4 linked regions of the Homo sapiens genome follow. The protein of the gene in region 4 purifies or fractionates together with the protein of the main gene of each other region. This does not show direct contact. Each region holds a gene or a part of one and is shown on either strand. Other genes may lie near its edges.

Evidence for each region. Proteins that work in one complex are often made in the same cells at the same time.
Region 1: the proteins of PRPSAP1 (region 4) and EGLN1 fractionate together in Homo sapiens (co-fractionation; one large-scale study listed by BioGRID). This does not show direct contact.
Region 2: the proteins of PRPSAP1 (region 4) and ANKRD28 purify together in Homo sapiens (affinity purification with mass spectrometry; one large-scale study listed by BioGRID and IntAct). This does not show direct contact.
Region 3: the proteins of PRPSAP1 (region 4) and UBLCP1 fractionate together in Homo sapiens (co-fractionation; one large-scale study listed by BioGRID). This does not show direct contact.

What each region holds. Positions count from the first base shown.
Region 1 is NC_000001.11:231,362,918-231,366,863, reverse strand, and holds the end of EGLN1 (egl nine homolog 1), read left to right. Parts: intron 1-388; coding exon 389-453; 3' UTR 454-3,108; downstream 3,109-3,946. UniProt on the Homo sapiens protein: Cellular oxygen sensor that catalyzes, under normoxic conditions, the post-translational formation of 4-hydroxyproline in hypoxia-inducible factor (HIF) alpha proteins.
Region 2 is NC_000003.12:15,791,110-15,795,055, forward strand, and holds part of ANKRD28 (serine/threonine-protein phosphatase 6 regulatory ankyrin repeat subunit A), read right to left. Parts: intron 1-3,946. UniProt on the Homo sapiens protein: Regulatory subunit of protein phosphatase 6 (PP6) that may be involved in the recognition of phosphoprotein substrates. Involved in the PP6-mediated dephosphorylation of NFKBIE opposing its degradation in response to TNF-alpha.
Region 3 is NC_000005.10:159,280,214-159,283,782, forward strand, and holds part of UBLCP1 (ubiquitin-like domain-containing CTD phosphatase 1), read left to right. Parts: intron 1-2,998; coding exon 2,999-3,126; intron 3,127-3,569. UniProt on the Homo sapiens protein: Dephosphorylates 26S nuclear proteasomes, thereby decreasing their proteolytic activity. Recruited to the 19S regulatory particle of the 26S proteasome through its interaction with 19S component PSMD2/RPN1.
Region 4 is NC_000017.11:76,326,272-76,330,217, reverse strand, and holds part of PRPSAP1 (phosphoribosyl pyrophosphate synthase-associated protein 1), read left to right. Parts: intron 1-119; coding exon 120-175; intron 176-1,355; coding exon 1,356-1,501; intron 1,502-3,946. UniProt on the Homo sapiens protein: Seems to play a negative regulatory role in 5-phosphoribose 1-diphosphate synthesis.

The DNA.
Region 1 (3,946 bases), on a different chromosome or scaffold from region 4:
TTGCTAATCGCACGTCGACCTTACATAAAAATGGAATATTCATGCATTTTCTATGTATTTTTAAAGCCATTATTTGTGGCACAAGCTCAGTGTGCTTTCAGAGACACTGAACACTCTGTTGAAGAAACTCAAATGGCTTTTAAAATAAAAAGACAAAATCATTATCTCTGTGTAGAGGATGGTTTTATCCTTGAAGGTTTACTATTTGAAACCTCATCACAATAGAATGCTGAGGGAAGTTTTTGGAAGTACAAGCGTGATAGTTCTCAGATGATGTTTGCAAAGTTGAAATATTGTCCATACTCTTAGGAATTCAGTGGAATGCAGTAGCAGAAGCTCTCTGGTGCTTAGTGAATGAATGAAAATTTTTTTTTTTTTTACCTTGCAGGTGAAAAAGGTGTGAGGGTTGAACTCAATAAACCTTCAGATTCGGTCGGTAAAGACGTCTTCTAGAGCCTTTGATCCAGCAATACCCCACTTCACCTACAATATTGTTAACTATTTGTTAACTTGTGAATACGAATAAATGGGATAAAGAAAAATAGACAACCAGTTCGCATTTTAATAAGGAAACAGAAACAACTTTTTGTGTTGCATCAAACAGAAGATTTTGACTGCTGTGACTTTGTACTGCATGATCAACTTCAAATCTGTGATTGCTTACAGGAGGAAGATAAGCTACTAATTGAAAATGGTTTTTACATCTGGATATGAAATAAGTGCCCTGTGTAGAATTTTTTTCATTCTTATATTTTGCCAGATCTGTTATCTAGCTGAGTTCATTTCATCTCTCCCTTTTTTATATCAAGTTTGAATTTGGGATAATTTTTCTATATTAGGTACAATTTATCTAAACTGAATTGAGAAAAAATTACAGTATTATTCCTCAAAATAACATCAATCTATTTTTGTAAACCTGTTCATACTATTAAATTTTGCCCTAAAAGACCTCTTAATAATGATTGTTGCCAGTGACTGATGATTAATTTTATTTTACTTAAAATAAGAAAAGGAGCACTTTAATTACAACTGAAAAATCAGATTGTTTTGTAGTCCTTCCTTACACTAATTTGAACTGTTAAAGATTGCTGCTTTTTTTTTGACATTGTCAATAACGAAACCTAATTGTAAAACAGTCACCATTTACTACCAATAACTTTTAGTTAATGTTTTACAAGGAAAAAGACACAAGAAGAGTTTAAATTTTTTTGTTTTGTTTTGTTTTTTTGAGACAGTCTTGCTCTGTTACCCAGGCTGGAGGGGAGTGGTGCATTCTTGGCTCACTGCAACCTCCGCCTCCCAGGTTCAAGCAATCCTCCCACCTCAGCCTCCCAACTAGCTGGGACTGCAGGCACACACCACCATGCCTGACTAATTTTTGTATGTTTAGTAGAGACGGGGTTTTGCCATGTTGCCTAGGCTGGGGTTTAAGTTAAATTTTTTAAAAAACTAAAGTGACTGGCACTAAGTGAACTTGAGATTATCCTCAGCTTCAAGTTCCTAAGATAAGGGCTTTCTTAAGCTTTCAGGTGTATGTATCCTCTAGATGTAGACAATAATGTCCCATTTCTAAGTCTTTTCCTTTTGCTTCTCCTTAAATTGATTGTACTTCCAAATTTGCTGTTATGTTTTTTTCCTAATACTGTGATCTATCTGATCTGCAGACAAGAACCTTGTCTCTGTTGAAGAGCATCAAGGGGAGATTATGTACACATTGAAACTGAAGTGTGGTGTTACTGACGGAATGTGCAGTAACTCCTCAGATATCTGTTAAGGCATTTCCCAGATGTGATGCCAGCCTTCTTACCTGTACTGAAAGATGCTTAGCTTAGAAAAAAACAAAACAGATGCAAAATCAGATAATTTTATTTTGTTTCATGGGTTTTCTTATTTACTTTTTAAACAAGGAAGGAATATTAGAAAATCACACAAGGCCTCACATACATGTTATTTAAAGAATGAATTGGGACGGATGTCTTAGACTTCACTTTCCTAGGCTTTTTAGCAAAACCTAAAGGGTGGTATCCATATTTTGCGTGAATTATGGGTGTAAGACCTTGCCCACTTAGGTTTTCTATCTCTGTCCTTGATCTTCTTTGCCAAAATGTGAGTATACAGAAATTTTCTGTATATTTCAACTTAAGACATTTTTAGCATCTGTATAGTTTGTATTCAATTTGAGACCTTTTCTATGGGAAGCTCAGTAATTTTTATTAAAAGATTGCCATTGCTATTCATGTAAAACATGGAAAAAAATTGTGTAGTGAAGCCAACAGTGGACTTAGGATGGGATTGAATGTTCAGTATAGTGATCTCACTTAGGAGAATTTGCAGGAGAAAGTGATAGTTTATTGTTTTTTCCTCGCCCATATTCAGTTTTGTTCTACTTCCTCCCCTTCCTTCCAGATGATAACATCACATCTCTACAGTAAGTGCCTCTGCCAGCCCAACCCAGGAGCGCAAGTTGTCTTTGCCATCTGGTCTATAGTACAGTGCGCGGCGTTAGGCCACAACTCAAAAGCATTATCTTTTTTAGGGTTAGTAGAAATTGTTTTATGTTGATGGGAGGTTTGTTTGATTGTCAAAATGTACAGCCACAGCCTTTTAATTTGGGAGCCCCTGTTGTCATTCAAATGTGTACCTCTACAGTTGTAAAAAGTATTAGATTCTACTATCTGTGGGTTGTGCTTGCCAGACAGGTCTTAAATTGTATATTTTTTGGAAAAGTTTATATACTCTCTTAGGAATCATTGTGAAAAGATCAAGAAATCAGGATGGCCATTTATTTAATATCCATTCATTTCATGTTAGTGGGACTATTAACTTGTCACCAAGCAGGACTCTATTTCAAACAAAATTTAAAACTGTTTGTGGCCTATATGTGTTTAATCCTGGTTAAAGATAAAGCTTCATAATGCTGTTTTTATTCAACACATTAACCAGCTGTAAAACACAGACCTTTATCAAGAGTAGGCAAAGATTTTCAGGATTCATATACAGATAGACTATAAAGTCATGTAATTTGAAAAGCAGTGTTTCATTATGAAAGAGCTCTCAAGTTGCTTGTAAAGCTAATCTAATTAAAAAGATGTATAAATGTTGTTGAAACATTATGGTGGTTATTTCCAGCTGTCTTTTTTGTTTTTCAATCCTTTATCATACATTGGCTTTCCGAATGATCCCTTTCATCAGATAAAGCTTTTCTGGCTTAGTCTAGGACATTTGTTATAACTTTTTGTAAATGATAATGAAGGAAAGAGAACAGTAAACATAGGAGTTCAACAATTTTAGAAACATCCCTGGGGTCATTGGACTGTCTGTGGGATCCATGAAGTCTGTTTGGATTCTCAGCACTTGAATTCTTGCCCTTTTAGTAGGATTTTTAAAATTATTTTAACATTCATAGCTGTTGACAGATCTGTATCACCCCTCTGCTGCAAAAGGAAGTGGGGTTAGGCATTTATCTCTAATTGTCATAGATGTACCATTGTGTATATGCAAGAAGGTTTAATTTGTGTGGTCATAACTAAAATATGAGAGCTCTTATTAAGGTGAGATCAAAATACCTGTTTATATATCTGTTATTTAAAGAAAAATTTTCCACAGTGTTTTGTTATTTTCCAGCGTTTCTTAGAACATTTGGGAATTACACTAAAATATAGCTGGGTGGATTGAAGTAAAGGGCAAATGAGTTTGAGATGAAGTTTGAGATGTGCTTTTTTATATACAAAAAGCACATCTTCCACCTTAAACAGTTGTATGAGACCTAAATGAAATACAGTGTGCAAAGTACCTTACAATGCATGGAACAAAGTAGGCCTTCAACGAGGATTATTGCCCTTTCCTTTAACAATATGATAGCATAATTGCAGAGAGAGAAAATTGGGGCAATGAGCTTTGAATAGCTAACGGTTTTATCAGTTGTAAATGTGAATCATTTGGAAGC
Region 2 (3,946 bases), on a different chromosome or scaffold from region 4:
ATGAAGAAAATTGAAGAGGACACCAAAAAATGGAAAAATATTCCATGTTCATGGATTGGGATGAATCAACACTGTTAAAATGTCCTGGCAATCTATAGATTCAATGCAATCCCAATCAAAATACCAATGGAATTCTTCACAGGAATAGAAAAAATACTAAAATTTATATGGAACCAGAAAAGACCCAGAATAGCCAAAGCCACCCTAAGCAAAAAGAACAAAACTGGTGGAATCCCATTATCTAACTTCAAATTATGCTACAGACCTATCGTAACCAAAACAGCATGGTACTGTCACAAAAACAGACACGTGTACCAATAGAACAGAACAGAGAACCCAAAACCAAATCCAAACACCTACAGCAAACTCATTTTTGACAAAGGTGCCAAGAACATACACTGGGAAAAGACAAGTCTCTTTAATAAATGGTGCTGGGAAACTGGATAAACACATGCAAAATCATGAAACCAGACCCCTATCTCTTGCCATATACAAAATTCAAATCAAAATGCATTAAATACTTCAAACTGAATCTAATACAAGAAAACACTGGGGAAAATCTCCAGGACATTAGTCTGAGCAAATATTTCTTGAGCAATAGCCCACAAGCACAGGCAACCAAAGCAAACATGGACAAATGGGATCACATCAAGTTAAAAAGCTTCTGCACAGCAAAGGAAGTAATCAACAAAGTGAAGAGACAACCCACAGAACGAGAGAAAACATTTGCAAACTACCCCTCTGACAGGGGACTAATAACCAGAATATAAGGAGCTCAAACAACTCTACAGGAAAAAACCTAATAATCTGATAAAAAATGGGCAAAAGATCTGAATAGACATTCCTCAAAAGAAGACACACAAATGGTGAAAAGGTTCTCAACATCACTAATCATCAGATATCCAAAACTCAATGAGATATCATCTTGTCCCAGTTAAAATGCCTTTTATCCAAAAGTCAGGCAGTAACAAATGCTGGTGAGGATGTAAAGAAAAGGGAACCCTTGTTCACCATTGGTGGGAATGTACAACCACTACGGAGAACAGTTTGGAGGTCCCCCAAAAAACTAAAAATAGAGCTACCATATGATCGAGCAATTCCACTGCTGGGTATATATCCAAAATAAAGGAAATCAGTGTATCGAAGAGATCTGCACTCCTATGTTTGTTGCAGCACTGTTTACAATAGCTAACATTTGGAGGCAACCTAAGTGTCCATCAACAGATGAATGGATAATGAAAATGTGGTACATACACACAATGGAGTACTCGTCAGCCATAAAAAAACAGACCCAGTCATTTGCAACAACAGGGATAGAATTGGAGATCATTATGTTAACCGAAATAAGGCAGGCACAGAAAAACAAACATCACATGTTCTCACTTACTTGTGGGATCTGAACATCAAATCAACTGAATTCATGGACATAACAGAAGGATGGTTACCAGAGGCTGGGAAGGGTAATGGGGGGTTGAGTGGGAGGTGGGGATGGTTAATGGGTACAAAAAAATAGAATAAGACCTACTATTTGATAGCACAATAGGGTGACTATAGTCAATAATAACTTAATTGTATATTTTAAAATAACTTAAATAATGTAATTGGAATGTTTGTAACTCAAAGGATAAATGCTTGAGGGGATGAATACCTAATTCTTCATGATATGATTATTTCACATTACATGCCTGTACCAAAACATCCCATGTACCCCATAAATATAGACACCTATTATGTACCCACAAATTTTTTTTAAAACCCACTAAAATAAGAAGAAAAATCTATTAGGTGTGTTACTAAGAAACGTGCTGTTTAGTGGTCTACAATATTCAAAACCTCAGGGTGTGACTAAAGAAACTCATCTAAAATTATACAATGACTATTTAATGGTAGAGAAATAAATCTGAACTTATATCCATTCTAAAAATGAATAAAAACAACTTCAAAAAACTTAAGAGAAACCTGAGTTTCAAAAAGTCCAACGTTATTCTCCAAATACTTATTTAAATAAATTTACTTTGGAAAAACACGACTGTCACACTGACATAAAGCTTAAAAATATTTTATTACCTATTAAAAGTCAGTGCATTTAACACCCATTGCCTTTTAAAACCCCATATGATTCCTTATCAGACAAAATCAGATGATATTTACCATCTTAAATTCAAATAATGGCCAAAAAGTTAACAAATCTTGACTTTAAGGCAACACTCTCAACTACTAAGAAAGGGTCACGAGAGAAAAGGCCTAAAAGCAATCATAAAAGTTGTTGTCAAAAACCTTTGTATCACTGAAGACAATTGTCAAAGAGTTACTCTCAAGAAAGGCCTACTGATGAGTGAGCTGATGCTCTCAATGACTCTGAATTTTTTTTTAATTTAGGATAAATTGATTAAATATAACATAAAAGTAATGTCAGCTACAATAAACTTTGTAATGATGGAGAAATTAGCCCTGGTAAATGGAATTATAGTTCAAACTTTCTAATCAAGGTAGTATTTGTCAGTACTATTAAAATAAAACCAAAATAACAAGAAAACCTTAGGAGTTAAATGGAAAACATGTTTTCCACCTTTTCATGCGTCTATACCCCTTGAGCTATTTTCTAAGAAACGCATACTCTTCAGTATACCCTGGGTAAAGTAGCCAGACACTTCATTTAAAACAAATAAATCATGGCCCGGCACAGTGCCTCACGCCTGTAATCCCAGCACTTTGGGAGGCCAAGGCGGGCCGATCACCTGAGATCAGGAGTTTGAGACCAGCCTGGCCAACATGGTGAATGAAACCCTGTCTCTACTAAAAACACAAAAATTAATCGGGCGTGGTGGCAGGTGCCTGTAATCCCAGCTACTTGGGAGGTTGAGGCAGGAGAATCGCTTGAACCCGGGAGGCAGAGGTTGCAGTGAGCGGAGATCATGCCACTACACTCCAGCCTGGGCAACAGAGCCAGACTCTGTCTCTAAATAAATACATACATACATACATACATAAATCCTGAATTAGGTGCATGTTTCCAACTAAATATAAACTTGAAGGCAATTCACTTAGAAAAAATTTTAAAAAATATATAATGATAGCATTCTGTTCATTACCCAATGTTAAAATTAACAACAGTTTTAGCCAATGATTCAAATCTATTCAGATAATTCATTATTTTAAAAATAAGGTAAAACTTTTTTGTATCTACCTAACATTAAGTGGTCACAGCAGTATTATATTAAAAAAAAAAGGAGGAAAGATGAGAGTTAAAAATGAGCTTGCAATGGGTGCTTTCTTAAAACCACAATCATTTCTAGGTCATCTGTTTTGGTGTTGCCACAGCGACTTTGTGAATCATATGACTTTTCACCCCCTCCATAACTCAGGGGTACATTTGTTTCTGGTAAAAATATATACATTAGTGGATGTAATTTTGTTAGAGTACGTAATGTACTTTCAGCCACAACTTAGTAAACTAAATACTGGCCACTGAAAAAACATAACAGAGAGAGAAAATTATCCATATATCCACCTTTCTAAAACTGTCCATCATGTCAGCACTGAATATACTACTGTATCGTTAAGTCTGAAAACTTTTCCAACAATGACTTTACTGAAAACCTAATCTGACAAAAATTAATCAAGCACCATTGTAAAACACTCACCATGATTATTTACAAAAAGCAAATCTGATCTTATATTTAGATATACACTTACAAGAATCCTCATTTGAAATGCACAGTTAAGTATTTAATGGTGAAGTATCATGATTTCTGCAACTTACTACATATATATGTAAAAGTTGTATATTAATAAATACAGAAAGCAAATGTGGCAAAATGTTATCAATGCCAAAAGTAAGTGAAAGGTATATGGGTAGTCAGCATGTTTTTTTAACTTCCCTATGTTTGAAAAATTTCAAAGTAAAAAGCTGGGAGAACAAAAGACCCCTACTGGCTGCTACTGC
Region 3 (3,569 bases), on a different chromosome or scaffold from region 4:
TCTACCCAAGATAACACTTCATGAAAACCTCTTTTAAGGTTAAAGATTAAAGGTTAAGATTAAGATTAAAGATCTGCCCACGTCGGCATAGAAACAGGTGGGGTTTTCTGACAGGGTCTTGCTCTGTCACCCAGGCTGGAGTGCAGTGGCATGATCAGAGCTCATTGCAGCCTCGACTTCCCTTGCTCCAGTGATCCTCACATGTCAGCCTCCCAAGTAACTGGGACTACAGGCGCACGTTACCACACCTGGCTAATTTTTGTATTTTTGGTAGAGACAAGGTTTCGCCATGTTGCCTAGGCTGGTCTCGAGGTCCTGCACTCAAGCGATCCACCTATCTCGGCCTCTCAAAGTGCAGGATTACAGGCATGAGCCACTGCGCCCAGCCCAGAAAGAGTTCTAAAATGGAGAAATATCCTCAAATGCTGTGTTTTGTTATCATGCTTTCATAATGCACTTGGTAGAAATCTCAAAGATTTCATGTAGATCTTAAAAATAAGACTGCTCATTTTTAAAATAGTTAACTTCTATTAAACATAAGCTTGTCAGTCATAAGGTTTGAAGTACATGGAAGGTACTGTGAATATGAATTTAGAATTACACTAAAAGAATGTGAATCTTGGTCATGGATAAAGCAGTTTATCGGCTGAAAACTCCATTTTTATTGTCTGTACAAGGAAATTATGATATAGGAGAATTCAGCTTATCTAGACAGTCTTAAGTTTCTAAAAATGCTTCCTTGACCTGAGACAAGATGATGGTTTCCTGTCCTTTTAGTGATCACTTAGATCAGTTTTTAAAAATGTACAGTAAACAGTGGTTATACTGGAGCAAGTGAAGTCAATTAGGTGCATAGATTTTCACCCTTAATTTGTTTATTTAAAATTTTAGAACCAGAATCATTAGAATATTTTAGTTTTGTTGTTTAATAGTGCTTAAGAGCAAATGTTTGGAAAGTAAAAATAACTTAGCAGAGCCTTGGGTTGAAAATCTTATTTACTACCCACCAACCCTGTAATTTCCTGCTGTTTAAATTTGGACACTTTGGTACATTATATATTAATTGCTTAAAAGTTAATTTGTTACCTTTCAGTCCTTAGGAAGTGAATGAAGGAATACTTTAAAACATTACCATATCACCCAGGATTATGCAGAAACTCATTTCACTACATCCTCATATCATGACTCTGTTTACTCCCATCCCCAGGGCCTAAGCAAGGCCCTGTAAAGCGTCGTCTTCAGCCCCCACATTCACTGCTGCTCGGAAACAGCACTGCTGCACTACCTTTTTGGAAGTGGGATCTCCCACAAATGCTGATTTCTGAGGAGACTCCCTTTGACAGCTCTTGACTGGTGCCCTTCAAGCAGTATGGGAGCCAGCTAACAGTGTGGAGGTCACTGGCACCAAGCTGTTCTGATGAGAGTAGAACACCTGGGAAAATTTTCTTCTGTCCATTTCAGATGGGTGGTGTTTTTCCAATGACAGAAGAAAAGTATGTAAAAAATACTTAAACCCTTCCCTACACTTAATAGGTATGGTAGTAGACTCCTTTGGGCTCACTCATTGTTCTTGCTTCTCAGTAAGTGACAATGATTAAATATCATTCATTTTTCAGTGTTAACTGTGTAAAATTAATAACTAATGACCAAAAAAAAAAAAAACTAATGACCAATTTGCATTTTCTCCAAATCAAAAGAATATACTAATACTTTGCTAAGTATGATGAAATCAGTCCTTACATGTGTGCTTTAGGAATATGTGTGCTTTAGGAATATGTATGATTTTTTTTTAACGATAACAGAAAAATTCAAATGTAAACAGAACTATATAAAATTGCTTAAACCCCCATGTAGATATCATTCAGTTTAAATTAGCTTATTAATTCATGGATGGTTATTGTTTGCTCTATACGCTACTTCCCTCTCCTTAATATTTTGAAGTAAATCTTAGTCATATCATATTATCTAAAATTAATTTAAAATTATTGAAAGACTATCTTGAGTTGTATAAAGATATTTGAGCAGGTGTCTTTTACAAAACAGCAGAATTCTTTACTGAAGCTATAAAATAAGGAAAAGTGCATAAATTTATAGTTCAACAAACTGTAAAGATAATTCTTGTAAAAAATTTTATTCCACTAAAATTACTCATGATTTTCCTTTCCAAAGATAAACACTATTACCATCTTGATTTATAGTCCTCTAGTCTTTTTAAGCATAGATTTATGCACAAATCTAGATGAAGATTGCATATAAACATATGCATTCATAGCACCGCCACTCAAGTCAAGATATGGTATTCCTTACTAATTGCAGTCCCCTACCTCGGTCTATTATTCTGACATGTGTGGTTTGAAATAATGCTTTTTAAACTCTTTTTCATCATAAAATAGATCAGCCTTAAACATTTGGAAAATATGGCAGTTCTTTTTATGGAAAACTCTTGCATAATTAAAAATGATTTTAACAGAGAATTTAATGATAAAGAAAAATGCTTATGATAAAATGTAGGAGGAAACAGGTTATATAAATGTATAATGATATCTCAGCTATATAAAAATTTAATAGAAAAATAAAATAAAAATCATCGTTAAAATTTATCTCACTGTACTGTTAGATCAAGCTGGTATTGGGGTTAAATTTTTATGAATAAAATAATGTGAATGAAATTAATTAGAAGCAACTAGAATGATAGGAGGCGGGAAAGGCTAAGTAGTTTTGCAAAGTAGAGTAGCTGTGTATGGATTCAAGTGCAATAAGAAAGCTGGTGTTGTCAGGTTCAGATTGAAAAGATAATGTTAGGTAAAATAGGTAGAAGAGTTTGTAATTTGTAAACATTATACATGACTTTCTATTTAGGCTAATATAAAAGTAATTTTTAGTATTTATGTTCTTGGTGATATTTTAACCTCATTAACTCTAATTGAAATGATAGTATAGATTTGTTAGTTTTCCTTATCACATTGTGATGTGTTGAGTAATGTTTGTTTCCTAATAGATAAGGCCTTTTATGAAAGCGCACCTAAATCGTGATAAAGACAAAGAACTTTTAAAATTAACTCAGTACCTCAAGGAGATAGCAAAATTAGATGACTTTTTGGATCTAAATCACAAATATTGGGAAAGGTAAGTTTTAATTGCTTATTTATTTTCTCTTTACATCAATGAAGAAAAAATTATCATTTTTCATCAGTGACCCCAGTATATATATAGCTGTCTTAATTTTTATTTAAAATAGGTGACTTCTAAAAACATTTTCTAATCCAGTGACCTACCCCCAAAAGTATTTTCCCCTTTCATCTTAACCTCTAACTTGTTCATAAACATACCTCTTGTAAACTCTTTAATACTTCTAGAAGAGAGAACTTGAGAGACTAGCATATGTTGGTGATGCTGCCTGTAAATTATTTTGTGATGTTAGGTAAGCTACTCCTTTATGAATCACATGGAATATAATCCCTCTTCTCATACTGTAACTTAATGTCAGGATAAGATAAAACACATGTAAAAATTTCATAAATAGTATTAAAAATTACCAGTAACTTGAGTGTAGCAGAGAAATTAGAAAA
Region 4 (3,946 bases):
AATTCTAGCATATTTGATGACTAGTTTGGATCATTATAAGAGGGAAAACTTGAATACCAGCATCCAGGTGTTATTTTCTGATAACTTTTCAGTATTTTCTATTTTTCCTTCAAATCTAGATTCCAAATTACAGAAATGCAGTCATTGTAGCTAAGTCTCCTGATGCTGCAAAGAGGTAAGTAAGCTAGACATGGGTCCTGATCCCTCCTGAGTGCTCCCGAAGTCAGAATGAGCTGCTTTGGAATCCAGAGGCTGTCACTCGTGGCCTTTGAAAGCCCACTGGCTCTCATGTTAACCCCTCCATCGTTGTCATGTCCCATGCCACACACAGCTTTATCTCCAGCCTCCAGACAGCACACATGATCGCTGAGTTGCTCAGCTTTCCTCTGGGAAAACAAAGTTCCTTCAAGTTCTCAGAGAAAGGAAAGCAATGAGGCTATGAGCATTTTTCAAGCAATGGTTTTTTTTTTTGTTTTTTTTTTGAAATGGAGTTTCATTCTGTCACCTAGGCTGGAGTGCAATGGCGCGATCTCGGCTCACTGCAACCTCCGCCTCCTGGGTTCAAGCAGCTCTCCTGCCTCAGCCTCCCCAGTAGCTGGGATTACAGGCGCCTGTCACCACTCCTGGCTAGTTTTTTGTATTTTTAGTAGAGATGGGGTTTCACCATGTTCATCAGACTAGTCTTGAACTCCTGACCTCAAGTGATCTGTCTGCCTTGGTCTCCCAAAGTGCTGGGTTTACAGGCGTAAGCCACTGTGCCCGGCCCAGGCAATGGTTTTTAACGTTGTTCTTTCTTCTGAAGATGACTATCAGAATATTGGACAAAGGATAGAATCAAAATTATCTAGAATCAGGGCCAGGCGGGGTGGCTCACGCCTGTAATTCCAGCACTTTGGGAGGCCAAAGCGGGAGATCGCTTGAGCCCAGGGGTTCAAGACCAGCCTGGGCAACATAGACCCCGTCTCTACAAAATACAAAAAATAGCCAGTTGTGGCAACACATGCCTGTGGTCCCCGCTACTCGGGAGGTTGAGGTGGGAGGATCACCTGAGCCTCAGGAGGTTGAGGCTGCAGTGAGCCATGTTGACGCCACTGCACTCCAGCCTGGGTGACAGTGAGACCTTGTCTCAAAAAAAAAAAAAAATGTCTAGAATCAGATACAATCCCAAACCCTAACTCACGTGCCCTTTGAGTCATTTACATGCTGGCCTGGGCCTCACATTCTCATTTATATAAATAATGCCTTTGTATGTCCCTGAAACGTTAAATATTTTCATTTTATGGTTAAAAAATGATGCCGTAGTGATGCGTGGGATTTCTTCCTGTCAGTTTCACCATTTCCCTTTGTCCTTCTAGGGCCCAGTCCTATGCGGAGAGACTGCGTCTGGGTTTGGCCGTCATTCACGGGGAAGCTCAGTGCACGGAACTGGACATGGACGATGGTCGTCACTCCCCGCCTATGGTCAAAAATGCTACTGTGCACCCAGGCCTGGAGTTGCCATGTAAGATGAGCTCTGTGTTTTTATTTTATTTGTAAATTGAAGAAAGTTTTTTTTTGTTGGTTTTGTTGGTTTTGTTGTTGTTGTTTTGTTTTGTTTTGTTTTGTTTTTGAGATGGAGTCTCACTCTGTCACCCAGGCTAGAGTGCAGTGGCGTGATCTTGGCTGACTGCAACCTCTGCCTCCTGGGTTCAAGCAATTCTCCTGCCTCAGCCTCGTGAGTGGCAAAGATTACAGGTGTGTGCCACCACGCCCAGCTAATTTTTGTATTTTTAGTAGAGACAGGGTTTCACCATGTTGGCCAGGCTGGTCTCAAACTCCAGACCTCGTGATCTGCTCCAGACCTGGTGATCTGCTCGCCTCAGCCTCCCAGAGTGCTGGGATTACAGGCATGAGCCACTGCACCTGGCCCTGAAGAAAGTTTTAAGTAGTATGAATGGCTAGGAGTTATCGACTATGTAGATATATGCTGTCTTGTTGTTTTTTAATAATGGAATGGTATTTGCTATCCTCCGCCTTTTTTTTTTTTTTTTTGAGAAAGGATCTCCCCCTGTTGCTCTGTACAGTGGCACAGTCATGGCTCACTGCAGCCTTGACCGGGGCGCAAGTGATTCTCCCACCTCCGCCTCCTGGGTAGCTGGGACTGTAGGGGTACACTACCATGCCTGGATAGTTTTCTGTTCCTTTTTTTTTCTTTTTGTATGGAGACGGGGCTCCCTGCATTGCCCAGGCTGGTTTTGAACTTCTTTGCTCAAACAATCCTCCTGTCATGGTCTCCCAAAATGCCGAGATTACATAAGATTACAGACATGAGCCCCATGCCAGGCCCGATTTCCTCTTTTGTAAAAGGAAGTTGTGTTATACACATTTGTAGACTGTGTATGGACGGTTCTGCGTAGCACTCAGCATTCAGACGGTGTTTGATAATTTTAGCTTCAGTAAAAAAGTTGTATGTGTGATGGTGTGAAATCTTAAGCTTTTACATTATCATAAGCTGGGTGACAGCTGTTGATCAAATACCAGGCTTTGGGGATCAGGTAACTTTTATTTTTACTTATTTATTTATTTTGAGATGGAGTCTCACTCTGTCGCCAGGCTGGAGTGCAGTGGTGCAATCTTGGCTCACTGCAACCTCTTCCTCCCGGGTTCAAGCAATTCTCCTGCCTCAGCCTCTCCAGTGGCTGGGGCTATAGGTGCGCGCCAACACGCCGAGCTAATTTTTGTATTTTTAGTAGAGATGAGCTTTCACCATGTTGGCCAGGATGGTCTCGATCTCTTGACATTGTGATCCGCCTGCCTCAGCCTCCCAAAGTGCTGGGATTACAGGTGTGAGCCACCGTGCCCGGCCTATTTTTATTTATTTTTATTTTGTTTGAGACTGAACTCGTTCTGTCGCCCAGGCTGGAGTGCAGTGGCATGATCTTGGCTCACTGCAGCCTCCGCCTCTTGGGTTCAAGCAGTTCTCCTGTCTCAGCCTCCCAAGTAGCTGTGACTTCAGGCACACACCACCACACCCAGCTAATTTTTGTATTTTTAGTAGAGACAGGGTTTTACCATGTTGGTCAGGCTGGTCTCGAGCTGCTAACCTTAGGTCATCCGCCTGCCTCGACCTCCCAGTGTGCTGGGATTACAGGTGTGAGCCACCGTGCCAAGCCGTAATCTGCATTTTTAGCTTTTTATTTTCAACTGACTTTAGACTTAAAGTTGAAAGAATAGTACAGATTTCCAGCATATGCTCTTCACTCGGAGTCCCCAAATTTAACATTTATATACATGGGGTTTTTTTTTTTCCACCATTTGAGGGTGAGTTGCAGACGTAATGTCCCTTCATTCCTAAATACCTTCGTGTATATTTGTAAAGACAAAAGACTCTTATATAACCAGAGTATCATTATCAGACTCAGGAAGCTAACATTGCTGTAACACTGTAATCTACAGACCTTACTCAGGTTTCACCAGTGGTCCCAGCAGTGTCCTTTAGAGCAAAAGAATAAACTTGTTTTCTTGTTCAAGACCTAACCCAGGGTCACACATTGCATTTAGTTGTCATTTCTTTTTAGTCTCATTTAATCTGGAGTGGCTGCTTTATTCTTTGTTTCTTATGACCTTGATACTTTTGAACAGTGCGATCAAGTGATTTTGTAGACTCTCCCTTAATTGGGGCTTGTTTGTGTCCTCAGGATTAGATTCAGGTTATGCATTTTTGGCAGAAAATCACAGGAAACACATGATGTGTCCCATTACTGGTGATGTGCATTCTGATAAGTTGGTTAAGGTTTCTCTGGCAGGTTTCTCCACTGTAAAGTTACTCTTTTTTTTTTCCTCTTTGTAATTAATACTACCTCATGTTAAGACTATGTTTTAACTGTAAATATTCTGCTTCTCATCAAAATGAACATCTACTGATGATTCTTGCCTGAATCAATTATTGACTGTGATTGTTGTCAGT